Linked DNA regions of Homo sapiens: region 2 is linked to region 1. Evidence: fine-mapped expression QTL. A gene starts in region 1. The other region holds a variant in brackets. All regions are shown on one strand. Distances are between the middles of the regions. Region 1 holds the start of KCNRG (potassium channel regulator). Region 2 holds the start of DLEU1 (deleted in lymphocytic leukemia 1).

Region 1 (8,581 bases):
TTTTTCTGGTAGGATGTGATGGAGCTGCTTGAAGAAGATCTCACATGCCCTATTTGTTGTAGTCTGTTTGATGATCCACGGGTTTTGCCTTGCTCCCACAACTTCTGCAAAAAATGCTTAGAAGGTATCTTAGAAGGGAGTGTGCGGAATTCCTTGTGGAGACCAGCTCCATTCAAGTGTCCTACATGCCGTAAGGAAACTTCAGCTACTGGAATTAATAGCCTGCAGGTTAATTACTCCCTGAAGGGTATTGTGGAAAAGTATAACAAGATCAAGATCTCTCCCAAAATGCCAGTATGCAAAGGACACTTGGGGCAGCCTCTCAACATTTTCTGCCTGACTGATATGCAGCTGATTTGTGGGATCTGTGCTACTCGTGGGGAGCACACCAAACATGTCTTCTGTTCTATTGAAGATGCCTATGCTCAGGAAAGGGATGCCTTTGAGTCCCTCTTCCAGAGCTTTGAGACCTGGCGTCGGGGAGATGCTCTTTCTCGCTTGGATACCTTGGAAACTAGTAAGAGGAAATCCCTACAGTTACTGACTAAAGATTCAGATAAAGTGAAGGAATTTTTTGAGAAGTTACAACACACACTGGATCAAAAGAAGAATGAAATTCTGTCTGACTTTGAGACCATGAAACTTGCTGTTATGCAAGCATATGACCCAGAGATCAACAAACTCAACACCATCTTGCAGGAGCAACGGATGGCCTTTAACATTGCTGAGGCTTTCAAAGATGTGTCAGAACCCATTGTATTTCTGCAACAGATGCAGGAGTTTAGAGAGAAAATCAAAGTAATCAAGGAAACTCCTTTACCTCCCTCTAATTTGCCTGCAAGCCCTTTAATGAAGAACTTTGATACCAGTCAGTGGGAAGACATAAAACTAGTCGATGTGGATAAACTTTCTTTGCCTCAAGACACTGGCACATTCATTAGCAAGATTCCCTGGAGCTTTTATAAGTTATTTTTGCTAATCCTTCTGCTTGGCCTTGTCATTGTCTTTGGTCCTACCATGTTCCTAGAATGGTCATTATTTGATGACCTGGCAACTTGGAAAGGCTGTCTTTCAAACTTCAGTTCCTATCTGACTAAAACAGCCGATTTCATAGAACAATCAGTTTTTTACTGGGAACAGGTGACAGATGGGTTTTTCATTTTCAATGAAAGATTCAAGAATTTTACTTTGGTGGTACTGAACAATGTGGCAGAATTTGTGTGCAAATATAAACTATTATAAAATCTGTTTCAAGTATGCAGTTTTCTTTTGTTAGAAATTGTTAGAGAATAGAGAGTGGTAATTCAGATTTGGTCAACGATTCTAGTCACATATTTTCCTCCAAAAGTATTCCTTCCAAAAATAATCTATACATGTTCAAATTAGGTAGCATAAAGATAAAAGTGAAATTTAGTAGTATAGGCCTGAACCTTTTTTTGTTTAAAAGAGTGCTTTTGAAATAAGCATCCACCCCAAATGTTGGTTGTATTTATGCTGTGATAAAAATAGGTGAGAGATCATATGATCTAATATTGTATTGATGGAAGTATAGGTAGTATAGTAGTGATTGTTCTTCAAGCATGCAGTAAAGATCACTTTTTTTTTTTTTTTTTTTTTTGAGATGGAGTCTTGCTCTGTCGCCCAGGCTGGAGTGCAGTGATGCAATCTTGGCTCACTGCAGCCTCTACCTCCCAGGTTCAAGTGATTATCCTGCCTTAGCCTCCTGAGTAGCTGGGATTACAGGCGCGTGCCACCACGCCCAGCTAATTTTTTGTATTTTTAGTTGAGACAGGGTTTCACTGTCCCTTAAGACCATCCTGTTAGCCAAGATGGTCTTGATCTCCTGACCTCGTGATCCGCCTGCCTCGGCCTCCCAAAGTGCTGGGATTACAGGTGTGAGCCACCGTGCCCAGCCAAAGACTGCTCTTAAAGCACCTTTTTGACAGTGAACATGGTCTAAAAAAGGGAAGATATTGTAGAAGATTTCACACACACACGCGTGTGTGGGAGACAACTAAAGGTATTGAAGGTACTAATTAATTAGATTTCCAAAATTTTCTACAGAGAGTTAATTATCACCAAAATGTGAATGGTACATACAAAACCTGGCATTTTCTTGTGATAAGTTTACATTTTTAGGAGAGTGGAGCTTTCAATCTGCCCTTTTCTCCTTTGTTTTTGTAGTTTTCACCAAAGATGATCAACTAGAAATGTTAAGTGGCTATGCAAGCAAAAGCATAGATAGGTTAAAAAAAAGGATCAGCTGGCTGGGCAGGGTGGCTCATGTCTATAATCTCAGCATTCTAGGACAGTGATGTGGGAGGATTATTTGAGGCTAGGAGTTCCAGTTCGAAACCAGCTTCGTAAACATAGCAAGACCCAGTCTCTACCAAAAAAAAAAAAAAAAAAAAAAAAAAAAAAAATATATATATATATATACACACACACACACACATATGTACACATACATATATATACATATATATGTATATATAGAACACATGGCAAGAGCAGGAAATGGGAAGACTACCTTTTTTCTGGCAGCTATGTGTTGTTTTGTTCGAAAGATGGCAAGTGTACAACCAAACCAATCCACTTGCTTACAGAAAGAATGTTTAGTGTAGTTAAGACTAATTTGACAACAGATAAAACAGTCTGTCAGCTATTACAAAGTAATCAGCTGAACACTAATGCTGTTCTGTCTGCTCACAAGAGATAAAGATACCCTCTCATGGAATAAACACCTTGCTTAGAATTCATATAACAAAGAAGTAACCTTATAACTGCTCTCTAGTCTGCCTTATTTGTGTCATAGAGTAAGATATTCCTTGAAAGCCCATTAAGTGGAATAGACTTTCTGAAAATAAGAGTTCTTTACCTCAGTCCTCCTCTAATTTGGTTGAGAGGAGGTAATGAAAATGGGGACAGGATAAAAGGTGGCAACTAAATTTAAAGCACAGAAGAAATGATTTCCTTCTAGCTATGAGAATAGTCAAATTGAGCTTGCCAGGCTGTCTCATTCCTAACATGTAATTCATGATTTAGCCACTAAATTTCTAAGGAGATCATAAGAAATTAAGAAAAACGTTTAAGTCTAGCCTCTGCGTGGTAGACAGGTATGGGGAGGGAGAATGCTTTTCCCCTCCCAGTAATAAAAAAAAAAAAAAAAAAAATATATATATATATATATATATATATATATATATATATATATATATATATATATATAGTTTTACTAGGTTTTCATGGATAAGTTTTTAAATGTAAGACAGGAAAGGGATCTATTTGATGTCTATCTTCAGATATATTGGCAGTTTTCCTTAAGCTATTTAGTTCCTCATCTGTTGCTTTTTCATTTTGTATACTGCAAGTTCCCAGGCAACTCGAATTTGCAAACACAGCCATGGATACACTATTTACCTTACAGTAGTTTCCTGGGAATCTAAGTCTGGTTTTTGTTATTCTTCCCTCCCCTCCACTGCATAATCATGTATAACTAGCAACATTTATGGTTATAGGTTGATTTCCTAAGTGTGGCTGATGGTAGCCTCTAGTTTGAAGTGAGGGAAGAATGAGTAGTCAGGAACTGGTCACTTTGAATGTGGGAGGGAAGATATTCACGACAAGGTTTTCTACGATAAAGCAGTTTCCTGCTTCTCGTTTGGCACGCATGTTAGATGGCAGAGACCAAGAATTCAAGATGGTTGGTGGCCAGATTTTTGTAGACAGAGATGGTGATTTGTTTAGTTTCATCTTAGATTTTTTGAGAACTCACCAGCTTTTATTACCCACTGAATTTTCAGACTATCTTAGGCTTCAGAGAGAGGCTCTTTTCTATGAACTTCGTTCTCTAGTTGATCTCTTAAACCCATACCTGCTACAGCCAAGACCTGCTCTTGTGGAGGTACATTTCCTAAGCCGGAACACTCAAGCTTTTTTCAGGGTGTTTGGCTCTTGCAGCAAAACAATTGAGATGCTAACAGGGAGGATTACAGTGTTTACAGAACAACCTTCAGCGCCGACCTGGAATGGTAACTTTTTCCCTCCTCAGATGACCTTACTTCCACTGCCTCCACAAAGACCTTCTTACCATGACCTGGTTTTCCAGTGTGGTTCTGACAGCACTACTGATAACCAAACTGGAGTCAGGTATTTTGTACTTTGCAGTATTTCTCTTGTATACCAGTTTGTGATGTTTTCTCTAAAAACTTGAAGTTCCTCAGGCCTGTAACTTCTGGAAAAGATGATTATTCAAAATAATGTTTTGGGGTAACCAGTGGAGTTGGGTAGAATGACCAAATAATTATTTTCCAAACTGGGATACTTTTTAGAGTGAAAGGGGCTATTATTAGGTGGGACAAAAGGAATAAATGAAGACTGCCCAGAAAAAACTGAGACTATGGACATTCAAATCATGGGAGAAAATAATTTTGTAGATTATGTTCCATTGCTAATGAATTTGACTTAGAAAAGAATTGCCTTATTTTTAAGAGATTGTTTCAGTGGTTCACATAAAGGCTCGCTCACTGGTTTCTCTTGAGTTCCTTACACACTATATAAGTTGTTCTTTCAGTTTTATGATTCAACTACTGTTTTTCCTTCAGCTGACTTTATTTTTAAACACCCTTAAAGACAGATATATCTCATGGCAAATTTGGTATCCTGTTACAGCCTTGGCTCTTAAACAACTCAAAATATTGGGATAGGCTGTCAGTATGTTAAGGATAGTTGCTCCTGAGTCAATTCTTCACTTACTCCCTCTGTTGTTCTTGGCTGGATCCTAACGCTGATTTCCACTCTGCTGTCACAAACATTTTTCCCCCCGTAAAATGTCTTAATGCTGTCCTACCATTATTTTACCAACTGTGAAAGCTGGCTTTAATTTTTAGGAGGAAAAGAAAAGCCTGCATGTGTTCTTTATTGGTATCATTTAAAATATACTTTTTTTTTTTTTTTTGGTAAAGGTAGGCGTATTTTAAGATATTTTCTTAACTTGAGCAGTAGCCAACAGGAAGGATACCAGTGTCTCTCTCTCTTAGCGACACACTCCTTGGTCTTGCTTACCAACTGGAGGACACTAGGTAGAATAACCGAGTATGACAATTCTTAATTGTTTACATTTTATAACTTCCTGTCCTTCAAAAGAGTTTGAAATGTCATTTTGGGAAAAGAGAGCCAGTCAAGCTAGTAGGCTGATTGTGAAGAAAATCTAATACCTTATCTTTATCTCAAACCTCTGTACAACTTTATTTTCATTGATGGGATACTTTAACAAAAATGAAATTTTTTTTGGTTTTTAAAATATGAGTGATTATGACCTCTTTGGGGATCATGCTTCAAAAAGTCAGAAACCTAGAGACAAAACTGTCATTGATTTTTAAGAAGAAACACACTAGGTCAAAAGAAGATGTCCTGGAAATACGAAGTACTCTTTAAAAACCATGCATTTGGAGAAAGTAATTGTTTCCTTGAAAAACATGATTAAAAACTAAAACTGGGATGTTCCTGTGTGTACACAGTGCCAAATGGTTTTCCCTTTTTATGTTGTGTTTTAGAAACAGCACGAAAGTTTTTTCCATTTTAAAGTGAGAAAACATTATATTTAGACTTCCATAATTCCAAAATCAGAAGCTATTTTTAAAATTAGCATTTTCTTGCATCACCAAATGGTATTCAATTGTTTGAAGCTCAAAATTTTTACCATTCCATAAATGTTTGTGAATTTTTAGACAGTGCCAATTTAAAAGTAGAGATAGCCAATCTGAATACGGTGAAATTATGGGGATCTCTGGTGATTGGGATGAAAACTCTGGCCTTAAAAGGTCCACTTTTAGTATATAATTGCCTAATTAGCAATCATTTTTATTTTTTGCTCACTCCCTGGTCTGAATCTATCTGTCTATTCAGATATTTTTTGGTAGGTTTGGAAAATGGAGAAGTGAGCCTAATTGGTGCCTAATTGTCTGGTGTATCATTCACTTTATTCAGTTTGTTCTATCAATATGATTTACCCCTCAAGGTTAACCTAGCAGGTTGCTCAGTTATTATCTCTCAAGGTCACAGTACTAGAAATACTTGGCTTGCATCTTTCAGATGCCATTCATGTTATCAAGCTCAAATTATAGTTGGTCACAGGATTCTAAAGTCTTTATTTGACTTCTCCTTTTTGAACTGGCTCAAATGGAAAAGTGTAGTTGCTTTTAAATGTTAAAAATAAGTTTAAACTTTATATTTCCCATTGGTTTCCCCTATTTTGTCCTTTCTTTGTGTGCTTGAAATATTTTATTTTTCAGTTTGTCCTCATAGGGAATCAAGTATTTTAGCTAGGTGATGTCTTGCAAGTACGTTCCACTTTGTTACAATCTACTATCTGTATATACTATTTGTATCTTAATTCTTTTATGAGATGTTCTGTAACATTTTTCTCACTTTGACAAATGTTTTTAGACTGTACAGTCAAGATCTGGCGCTTGGGGGTAAGTGGAATGATTTGCTAATATTGAGAATCTGTTGTATCAAACATAATAAACTTTTTTTGAGATGTGCTTTGTAGTTTGGTAATTCTTAGATTTTACTATTGGTTTCTTTGCTTAGAATGAGTTTCTAAATGTGAACTACAAAAACCACTCTACTTCAAGCATGATCATTAGAAGAAGGTTAGGGATGTCCCCAAGCATCATTTTATCCCTTAAAACTACAGATAGTTTAGGTTTCTGCCTGAACTAATCTAAGTTAGCTTTTTCTTCACATCTCATAAACTAATGGTGGGAGGACACAAAGAGCTTTATGAAAACATTTTTGATGGCAGATAAGGACGGAGTCATAAAGCTGTATCCATGCAGATGTGTTATGCTGACATTATTGTTATTATTGAGATGGAGTTTCACTCTTGTTGCCCAGGCTGGTATGCAATGGCGTGATCTCGGCTCACCACAACCTCCGCCTCTGGGGTTCAAGTGATTCTCCTGCCTCAGCCTCCCGAGTAGCTGGGATTACAGGTATGCACCACCACACCTAGCTAATTTTTGTATTTTTAGTAGAGACGGAGTTTCACCATGTTGGTCAGGCTGGTCTCAAACTCCCGAGCTCAGGTGATCCACCAGCCTCGGCTTCCCAAAATGCTGGGATTACAGGCATGAGGCACTACGCCCAGCCTATGCTGACATTATTAAAGCCAACAGATAGCTAATCTGAAAAGTTCATGTGCATTTTTTTCTTTTTTTCTTTTGTTTTTTTTTTTGAGACGGAGTCTCGCTCTGTCACCCAGGCTGGAGTGCAATGGCGCCATCTTGGCTCACTGCAAGCTCCGCCTCCTCATGTGCATTTTTCTTGAATTGGTTCTGTGTACTGCATTTGTTCTGTGGAGCACCTCAGTGAATAGAAGATTTTGCCCTTTCCACTCTCCAGAGGCTTTTGACCCCAAGTTGTGCTCTTTGACAATGGAGAGTTATTGCGTAAAAAGTGACAATAAAATCTTGACATTTCATATCTGCAAAATTTCACTTAAAAAAAGGTAAATTTCATAGGAGTAAGTCGCAAAGGAAAATCCATAATGTCAGTGCTAATAATTGATAAGATTAGATCTGGAGGGGAAATTGTAAGTGCACAGCATTCATTAAAATATTTGATTCAATCAACTAATTAATAGCAAATTCAAAACAAAATTGGAAATAGTTATATAAAAATTAATACAATTTGTTTGATCAAATGTTTTCTTTAGAAAGTGATCTCTCAAAAATTGATGAGTGTTGGTTTACTTCTAAATATGGAATTGAAATGACTTTCAGAATCACAGCAAGGTCTCGATTTTCAGCACCTGATTACTGATTTGGTAGCCTAGCACGGTGGCTCATGCATGTAATCCCAGCACTTTGGGAGGCCGAGATGGGTGGATCACTTGAGGTCAGGAGTTTGAGACCAGCCTGGCCAACATGGTGAAACTCAATCTTTACTAAAAATACAAAAATTAGCCGGGCATGGTGGTGTGCGCCTGTAATCCCACCTGCTTAGGAGGCTGAGGCAAGAGAATAGCCTAAACCTGGGAGGCAGAGGTTGCTGAGAGCCAAGATCACACCACTACACACCAGTCTGGGTGACAGAGTAAGACTCCATCTCAAAAGAAAAAAAAAAAAAATCACTCATTTGGATTTGTAAAGTAAATGAAATTTCAAAAAAAAAATCTGTCTTGAGAAGGTATGATGCCTTTGAGGTTGTAAGTCAAATTTATGTGTATAGTTTTGCTAGTTATTAAAGGGATGCTTTATAATTAAGCTTCTTTTTGTGTGTCCTAGGTATGTTTCTATAAAACCTGATAACCGAAAATTGGCCAACGGAACAAATGTCCTCGGCTTACTGATTGACACTTTATTAAAGGAAGGCTTTCATTTGGTCAGCACTAGAACAGTATCTTCTGAAGACAAAACTGAATGCTATAGCTTTGAAAGGATAAAAAGCCCTGAAGTGCTCATCACGAATGAAACACCAAAACCAGAGACTATCATCATACCAGAGCAATCTCAGATAAAGAAATGAAGTTGTCTATCCTCTTTTAAAGAGAAATTGCCATTTTTCTTGTTTCATT
Region 2 (8,581 bases), 67 kb after region 1:
AAAGGAATCACTTCTTTTAAAAATGGCTTATTAAACAAACAATCCTTTACCCATTACCCCCTAAACAAACAAAAAATCCCATAAACCAAAGTGCTAAAAATGTATGGTTATACTTAACCAGCCTGGTGGAATTTAAAGCTTGCCCCCAACTCTTCCCAAAACTCACGTAATTTGAATGAGAATACAAAACTCAAAACAAAAACCATCAGTAAAAAGCAAAACCCAGGAGTTCTGGTACTTTAGGTATAATTACGTTTAAAATAGAAATGAGATCTCCTAAAATTTCATTAAATCAAATTTTATAGAGAAGATAATTAGCACCTTCTATGAAATTTTCATAAGATGACCCAAAATAAATAGCTTTGAACAAAGGTAATGAAAAGGGATCTGTTATCACAATTCTTGTTATGAGGGCAGTACAAAATAGTATGAATTATAAACTCAGCTATTCCACTTACTAATGTAAATTATATTTACAGCCCTACAGAGATTTATAAAAGCCATAAGATTTTTTATTTGAATATTTTTTAACAATGCGTATTTGACTTAATGCGAACATACACACTATAAGCTTCAAAATTTAACTACTATTCATAAAAGAATATAAACGTCTATTAAATTAAAACAATTGTTTCTCAAAGCATCTACAGCTGTTTATCAGTTAGTTTGCCGCTGTTCTTTGAAAACGACACCTGCCTTTTATCAAGATGCAATTAAATGGAATGACAAGCTCGGTAATAAATGGAAATATACTGAGGCTGTCTCAGGCAACATCGAACAAAAATCAACTGAAAATCAACCAGATAAAAAACAGCACACCCACACTGTTGTATACAATATATTTCTTCATAATGAATTTATCAAAGGAACTAAATAATAGATACGCACCTGTGCTTACCTGTTGTCTAAATTAAGAAACATAAATGTTTTGTAAATTAAAGTTTTAGTTCACTGCAGTTACTGAATTAGCAAAATGTATATTTTCACTAGATGCGAAAAGTTTTTTAAATAAGATGTTCAATTTTTATGGAAAATGTTAAAAAGATCATTCGTGAACCTTAAGAAAATTAGTTTCTTTGCATCAAAATAAAAGAAACAACTGTCCGGTAATCTGCATCCAACAAATATATGTAGTTTAAGGTGAAAAATTCCTATCAAAGGAAAAAAACTAAATTTTTCACTCAGTTTTTAACCAATAAAGAACAGTGACAAATATATAAAAGTCTTGTTAATTTCAACCAGCAGAAACATAATTTTGCGAAAACAGCCTCTTCAGTTTTACTTTTAATATACATTTGAGAACCACACGAAAATCCTTTCTGAGAGGAAAAAAAACTATTAAAAACCAACTTTTTTTCTAAACTCTCGTCCTAACGTTTCGTAGCTATTTCCGTGGTTCTCTGGCTAAAAGTATATTTTTTCGTAAAGTCGAGAATTATAGTTTAGCGTTCAACATTCAAACCCCCCAGGCCCGCTTCCTTCCAGCCAATCAGGGGGTAACAAGTCCAGAGTTTAGGGAGCTCCGTTAGACACAATTTGAAAAACATCACATTGCACTCTTCTATTCTCCTCCGGGAAACATTCTAAGCGAGGGCGGGTCCCCCAGTCTTCATAGAATATAAGAAATAAATCAATCGTTACATCAATTCCACGGGGAAAAACTCTGTAGGCAGGCAGTCCTAAAGAAGCGTGTCACCGCGGTTCCCAGGAAGCGTTATTCCTCTTTGCGAACAACTGAACAGAATAGCTGCTGCAGAAAGCATCTCCGGAATATTTGCAACCCAGAGCCGTGCGCCCCACACGCAATACACCGGCAAAGGGTTAATCTAGTGGTGCCTCCAGCGCGGAAAAGAACTCAAGATCTAATACATCCTTAACGCGGGATTTTTACAAAGGCCATAGAAGTATTACCTAAAGTTAATGCCGTCACTGGCTCACATCACTCAAGAGCTGTGGAGTAAGAATTGATAGAAACCACCAGCTAAGGGGGAAAAAAAAAATCACCGAAGGGAAAGACAAATAACAACTCTCGTCCCTCCTCCTCAGCGTCAAGAAAAGGTGGGGATCGCAAAATTACCGTTAAGTTGTCCGGGTAAAGACTTTTGGGGGAGGAAAACATTAATAGTTTCACAGATTGCTTTTTTCCTTGCGACATGTTTCAAACACCGGAGAAGAAAAAAGTCTTCTAAGAAAGTGCGACTCGGAGGAAATAGCCACGAGAAGGAAATCGTTAGCTCGAAGCCCCATCTTTCATCTCACCCGTGAACACTCCTCCCCTTTGAGAAAGGACAACGCTGCGAGAGCAAATGACAAAAATCCCCAGAAAGAAGCTAAAGTCCAGCATCTTTCCTAAGAGCCCGCTACAACCTCAAAAGCCTGCCCCTGCCCCATCTTGGAAGCGCGAGCCGCGGCCAGTCCTACCTACCTAGAGACCTCACCGGGACCCAGCGCGCCGGGGGAGGGCAGCCAGGGCTTGGGAAACTCTTTCCTGGGGCACCTCACGCTTCAGCGTCAAAAGACAATATAGATAGATGGGTGCCGGGCGGTGGCGGGGGGGACTGTTGCCACGACCCACCGGAGGGACCCATGACTCCGGGTCCTGAATTTTCTGTCGACCTTAAGTTTCTTGTCACGAGATGACGGCCATCACCGGGTCGAGAAAACGGCGAGAAAAGGCGGCCCGGTTCGGAAATGGGGGAGGGGCGCGCGTCCAGTCCTCCTGTCAAGGAGCGGCCGCCTGCAGAGACCCCGCAGTGCGCCGTCCCCGGCTCCGGTCCCGGGCGGGGGGTCTTGCTGACAGATCCGCTGGGCGGCGGCTGCTCCGCCGCAGCCGGTCCGCGTCCCGCTCAAACTGCAGCTCCCCTCCCCCCACAGCCCCGTCTCTCCGCGCTCCCGCCACATTCCGCCCGCCGCCGCCCACTCGCAGACGCCCAAGTTGCCCCTAACCCTACTTCCTCGGATTTTTCGCGATTAAGTGAGAGTAGACCCCGCGCCCACTCCCTGCACCCACCACTGCCTGCGGGTCCCACCACTGCCACCTCCCGAGTCCCGCTCTGCTACTTCTTCAGGCTCTTACCGACTGCGCCAGCCTTGGCGAAGCTCCGCCGACTGCCCTTTGCTCCAAGTAATTTTTGGCGATTTTTAAAGTAATTTTTCCGGCGGAGTCATAGTGGCGCTATACTCTCGGACAGGTTATCCTGTCTCTCCCGCTAGATTGATGAGATCAGGCATCACTCGAAAATGGCGCCGAAAGCGCTGAGGCTCCTCATTCAAATTCGTTAGAGCCAACCCCGCCGCCCCAGGGAATGCCGGGAACGCGGGCTGCCTCCACAGCTGTCAATACCGCCTCTTAACCCCCCTTCTCTTGCTTTCCCGACATTTTTACGCATGCGCAAACTCCAACCCTCCCCCCTCCTCCCGCCAGGCACATGCGCAGAATCATCGTGGTGCACGGCTCTCCCTTTGCTTCTTCGGTTGCAGTCCTCTTGCTTCTTGCGCGTGCGTGTAGCGCTTTTGCAAAGCCGCGGAGGTGAAGTGAACTTAGAGGTTGTGGGGCCGAGGGGTCGTCTTATAGCTACCAGCCCACAGGCATTTAGTCTACGTTGGAGGTAAACAAATACGGGTCCTGCTTAGGAGAAAAGAAAAACGTCTTACAGCCAGTGTCTAAACTCCAAACAACGGAATGTATCAATGAGACCTTGTATATGGATACACGTGCATTTAAAACCGCCCTGCCGGCTTGTAGAGCTTTTGCCGTTCTCCAGCGCTTTACAGGGGTTATCGCACTTAAGCCTCGGAACAACTTTACCAGGTAGGAACTATTACTGTTCTCGTTTTGAAGACCAGGAAACCTAGGCTCAGAGACGTTAAGTAATTTGCCCAAGACAGCACAGGTGGCACAGAAGTGGATGAATCCACATCTGTCAGATTCAGCAGCCCTGGAGTTCTCTACCACGCTGTACGATTCAACCTGAGCCCACACAGGAGGCGTGGTCTCCTTCTTCAACGGTGTGTGTGTGTGTGCGCGCGCGCCTGCCTAGAGTTAATGATTAAGTTTGCTGAAGCCCTTCTTCCCGGTCCTAAGCTGCCTGTTGCGAAGGCGCTTTCATTGAATTCAGTTTCTCTTACCGTCTTAACTTGTTCATAAACTTTTTGAGATAGGAATGGGCAGTTTTTCTGTGTCACTTAGGATG[AT/A]TTTTTTTTTTAATGGCGTGATAAGTGAACTGAATCCAGCAAAGACGAGTTTCTGTTGTGCAACACGTTGGTATACTGACAGCTACCACGTATTGACTGTGTACTGTGTGCTGGGCACTGTGCTAAATAAATGATTTACGAATTAATCGTGTTTATTGCTCACAACAGCCTTATGAAGTAGGTATTATCTTCACTTTACAGATGAGGACACCTGAGGTTCAGATTAAGAAATCTGCCCCAAAGTCTTAGAACTGGTAAGTAGAAGCACCATATCTAGGCAAACCTGTCTACCTTCAAAAAAAATGGGCACTCTGATAGGACAATTAACGATAATAAAGTTGTAATTTTTTTTTTTTTTTGAGACGGAGCCTCGCTCTGTCGCCAGGCTGGAGTGCAGTGGCGCGATCTCGGCTCACTGCAGCCTCCGCCTCCCGGGTTCAAGCAATTCTCCTGCCTCAGCCTCCCGAGTAGCTGGGACTACAGGCAAGTGCCACCACGCCCAGCTAATTTTTGTACTTTTAATAGAGACGGGGTTTCACCATGTTGGCCAGAAGGGTCTCGATCTCTTGACCTCGCGATCCGCCCGCCTCGGCCTCCCAAAGTGTTGGGATTACAGGCGTGAGCCACCGCGTGGAGCCCTATAAAGTTGTAAATATTTTAAAACCTTCATTGTGAATGTTAAATAAGAGAGTAGATATGAAAGTGCCTGAAGTACTAATAAGGAAGTGGGAGAAGGGTAGCATGGTTTGCATTATTTAAGTGTCTTGGAAAAGAAATGGATTTTAGCAATTTGAGATCAGCAAGAAGTAACGTGGCAGAGTAGTATAAATACACTACTTAATCTCTGGTACTTTTTTGCACTACTTAAGTGGGTCGACTCTGGAACCGAGCTGCCTGGGTGAATCCCAGCTCCACTACTTACTAGCTGTGCCTTGTTGGGTAAATTATCTGTTGGACCTTTTGTAAAACAAGTACTATTAATACCTCATTGGACTGTTGTAAGGATGTAAATGAGCTAACATATTAAAGGAATTTCAACAGTGCTTGGCATATTAGTAAATGTTTGTTATTGTCAGTCAGTCATTGATCTTTTAAACTGGCTTCTTTAATGGTTGTTCAAAAATCAAACTACAGTTAGTGCCTTTAGGGGTCAGCATTTTTTTTCTTTTTTTTTCTGAGAGGGAGCCTCACTCTGTTGCCCAGGCTGGTTGGATCACTGCAACCTCTGCCTCCCGGGTTCAAGCAGTTCTCCTGCCTCAGCCTCCCATGTAGCTGGGATTACAGGTGCGCGCCACCACGCCCGGCTAATTTTTGTATTTTTAGTAGAGACGGGGTTTCACCATGTTGGTCAGGCTGGTCTCCAACTCCTGACCTCGTGATCTGTCTGCCTTTGCCTCCCAAAGTGCTGGGATTATAGGCGTGAGCCACCGCGCTGGGCGGGGTTAGCATTCTTATTCAAGAGCTCCTTAAAATGATAAATCAAACTGACAAATGATTTTTCCCAAATATGAATAATGATCCCTGTTAGGCAAATAAGGATGTTAATTTATTTTACCATCTCATAAGAATAATACCTGGAAATGGAATAGATTTATTGCTTTTTCTGATTGTTAAGGTTAAAAAACCGAGGCCCATCTAAAATATATATAAAGTAAAAATCATCCAAATTTCTAGCATTCAGGGATAACCACATATTGTTTGTACTTTAAAAATATAATGTACCTGTGGGGACAATCAGCTAGGGGGGGTCTGGATAAGTGGTATATTTGGGAGACATGTGTAAAATTGTACTAGAACTTACAAATAGGTAAGTAGCACAATCTGGTTTCCTCACTGTAGAATTTTTTATCTTAGTCCCCTTTTAGATATAATATGTCAAGAGAATTCTAAAGTGATGATGATAAATGATAACATTTATTGAAGACCTAATATGTGTCAGACACTGGGCTAAGCATGTACATGCATTTTTCCATCGAATCATCATGTAACTCATTAAGTGGGTGCAATTATCTCTATTTTGCAGAGACTAAAGTTTATGTGTAAGTCACTTTTAGAAGATTTAAGTCTAATTGTGTTTAAAGTCTTATTTAAGAAAAAATCTTTCATGAAAGCTTCTTGATTTGCTAAAATGGGAGAAAACAAAATCAACTAACATACAGTAGTTCCTATGCCTGAACAGAGAGCCCGATTGTAAAAAACGGTCTTTTGAAAACTAAGAATTTTATATTTGACCACAAGGGGGTGCAAATTCCTGAGTTAAATTTCAAAGGAAAAACGGGAAAAGTGCTTTTACTTTAGACCATCAAATTCGTGGGTTAAAACTAGTAAGAATTCCTGCCTGGAACTTTAATACCCTACAAAGTAATGTACTTTATAAGAAGAAAGAACTCAATTACTTAGGTGCTCAATTAGGGCAGAAGTGTCAGCTTGCTTTCTTCAATACAGTCAAGAGTTAATCATCCCTCCCCCACCCCTTTCCACTCACAGTTAGTTTGTGTCTCTGCATACCCCTCTTTACTTGTCAATAAGAGTAGAACTGAAGTCATAATTTAAAATCTGGGGTTTTGCTCTTGGAAACTGAAATGCAATCACCAGCTAATGGATGCTAAATATGGGTAGTGTGAAGAACAGAGGTCTTGTAATTTCTATGCTTTTTTTCCCTCCTGCTGAAGTTTATAATGAGTAAGCTACAACTGATGCAATGTTGGCTTCAACATATTAACTTATTTAGATAAAACTGTGAAAGCTATAGGTCTGTTCATCTTTCAAGAAAGAATGCAGGCCGGGCGCGGTGGCTCACGCCTGTAATCCCAGCACTTTGGGAGGCCGAGGCAGGCGGATCACGAGGTCAGGAGATCGAGACCATCCTGGCTAACATGGTGAAACCCCGTCTCTACTAAAAATACAAAAAAATTAGCTGAGCGTGGTGGCAGGCGCCTGTAGTCCCAGCTACTCGGGAGGCTGAGGCAGGAGAATGGCATGAACCTGGGAGGCGGAGCTTGCAGTGAGCCGAGATCGCGCCACTGCACTCCAGCCTGGGCCACTGAGCAAGACTCTGTCTCGAGAAAAAAAAAAGAAAGAAAGAATGCAGACAGTACCTTGAAAACAGTATATACTACTGAATGTATTAAAAACTTTGCTTAGCAGGGTTTTCAACTTCCTTTTATTTTCGTGTTGGTCTTGTTTCTCTGAGATGGGACTTAATTTAAAAAATACAACTTTTTTTGGAAATAATTTCAAATTTACAAAAAGTTACAATATTAAAAAGAGTTCAAAGAACATCTATATCATTTGCTTGCTCTTGTACATGGGTGAGTTTTCTTTTTCTCTCTCTCTCCATATACACAGTCTATAAAAAACACACAGAGGAAAAATACAAGAAAAAAACTTTCAACCCATATCAAGGTTTTATGATTATAGTTAAAAATATACATATCAAAAAGTCAAACTAAAATTTTGCAGTGTTGACACTGCCAAACTATTCTTTTAAGGAACATTGGTGTTCTATCAGCTAGTCCAGTGATTTTTGTTTTTTTAAGAGACAGGGTCTCTCTATATTGCCCAGGCTGGCTTCAAACTCCTGGACTCAAGTGATCGTCCATTCAGCCTTACAAGTAGCAGGGACTGTAGGCAAGTGCCACTGCACCCAGCTCAGTGATTCTTAAACTTTGAAAATGTGTTGAAAGTTATAGACCCTTTCTCTAGAATCATGCATGTATGTGAATAGTTTGCATATAGTTTCAGAGGTGGATGATGGTCCATGGAGTTCCTGAAGAAAAGTAAAGGAAAAATTATTCATACATATGGTAGGCAGAATAATGGCCTACCAAAGATGTCCAAAGATGTACATGTCCTAATCTCTCTGGGATTTGTGAATATGTTATGTTACACGGTGAGAGATAATTCAAGTTGCAGATAAAAATTAGGGTTGCTACTCAGATGATCTGAAAATAGATTATTCTGGATCACCTGAGGAGGCCTAATTACATGGTCCTTTAAGTGTGTAAAGGGGAAGCAGAAGAATCCGTGTCAATGATGAGATGTGAGAAAGCCATTGCTGACTCTGAAGGTGGAAGGAGGCCATGAGCCAAAGAATAGTTCATGAGCTCTAGAAGCTGAAAAAGGCAAGAAAACAGACTCTTTAGGAATGCAGCCATGCCGACATCTCTATTTTAGCCCGCTAAGACCCATTTTGAATTTCTGACCTCCAGAACTGTAAGATAATACATTTCTGTTGTTTTAAGCCACTAAGTTTATGGTAATTTGTTTAAGGTAATTTTAAGGCATTAGGAAACTAATAAAGGATGTGAACAGTCATTTTGTATGTGTGTTGATGTGTGGTTATGGTAGTAATTAAGTGTGTGTGTGTGTGTGTGTGTATACATTT

The links.
Region 2: its variant is fine-mapped to the expression of KCNRG in whole blood (TOPMed, PIP above 0.99).

The regions. Positions count from the first base shown.
Region 1 is chr13:50,011,923-50,020,503 of GRCh38, forward strand. KCNRG (potassium channel regulator) reads left to right here and starts at 3,522. Exons shown (of 2, transcript NM_173605.2): 1 at 3,522-4,149; 2 at 8,292-8,581. The coding sequence starts at 3,572. The coding sequence ends at 8,532. TRIM13 (tripartite motif containing 13) reads left to right here. Exons shown (of 2, transcript NM_213590.3): 2 at 13-6,545. The coding sequence starts at 19. The coding sequence ends at 1,242. All of the region lies in intron 10 of DLEU2 (deleted in lymphocytic leukemia 2), which reads right to left.
Region 2 is chr13:50,078,747-50,087,327 of GRCh38, forward strand. All of the region lies in intron 1 of DLEU2 (deleted in lymphocytic leukemia 2), which reads right to left. It overlaps DLEU1 (deleted in lymphocytic leukemia 1), which reads left to right and starts at 3,423. Exons shown (of 7, transcript NR_109974.1): 1 at 3,423-3,811; 2 at 4,396-4,448. RefSeq lists enhancers at 1,875-1,934, 3,552-4,347 and silencers at 2,567-2,861, 2,725-2,944, 3,345-3,394. The variant AT/A (reference allele first, on the strand shown) is at 4,194.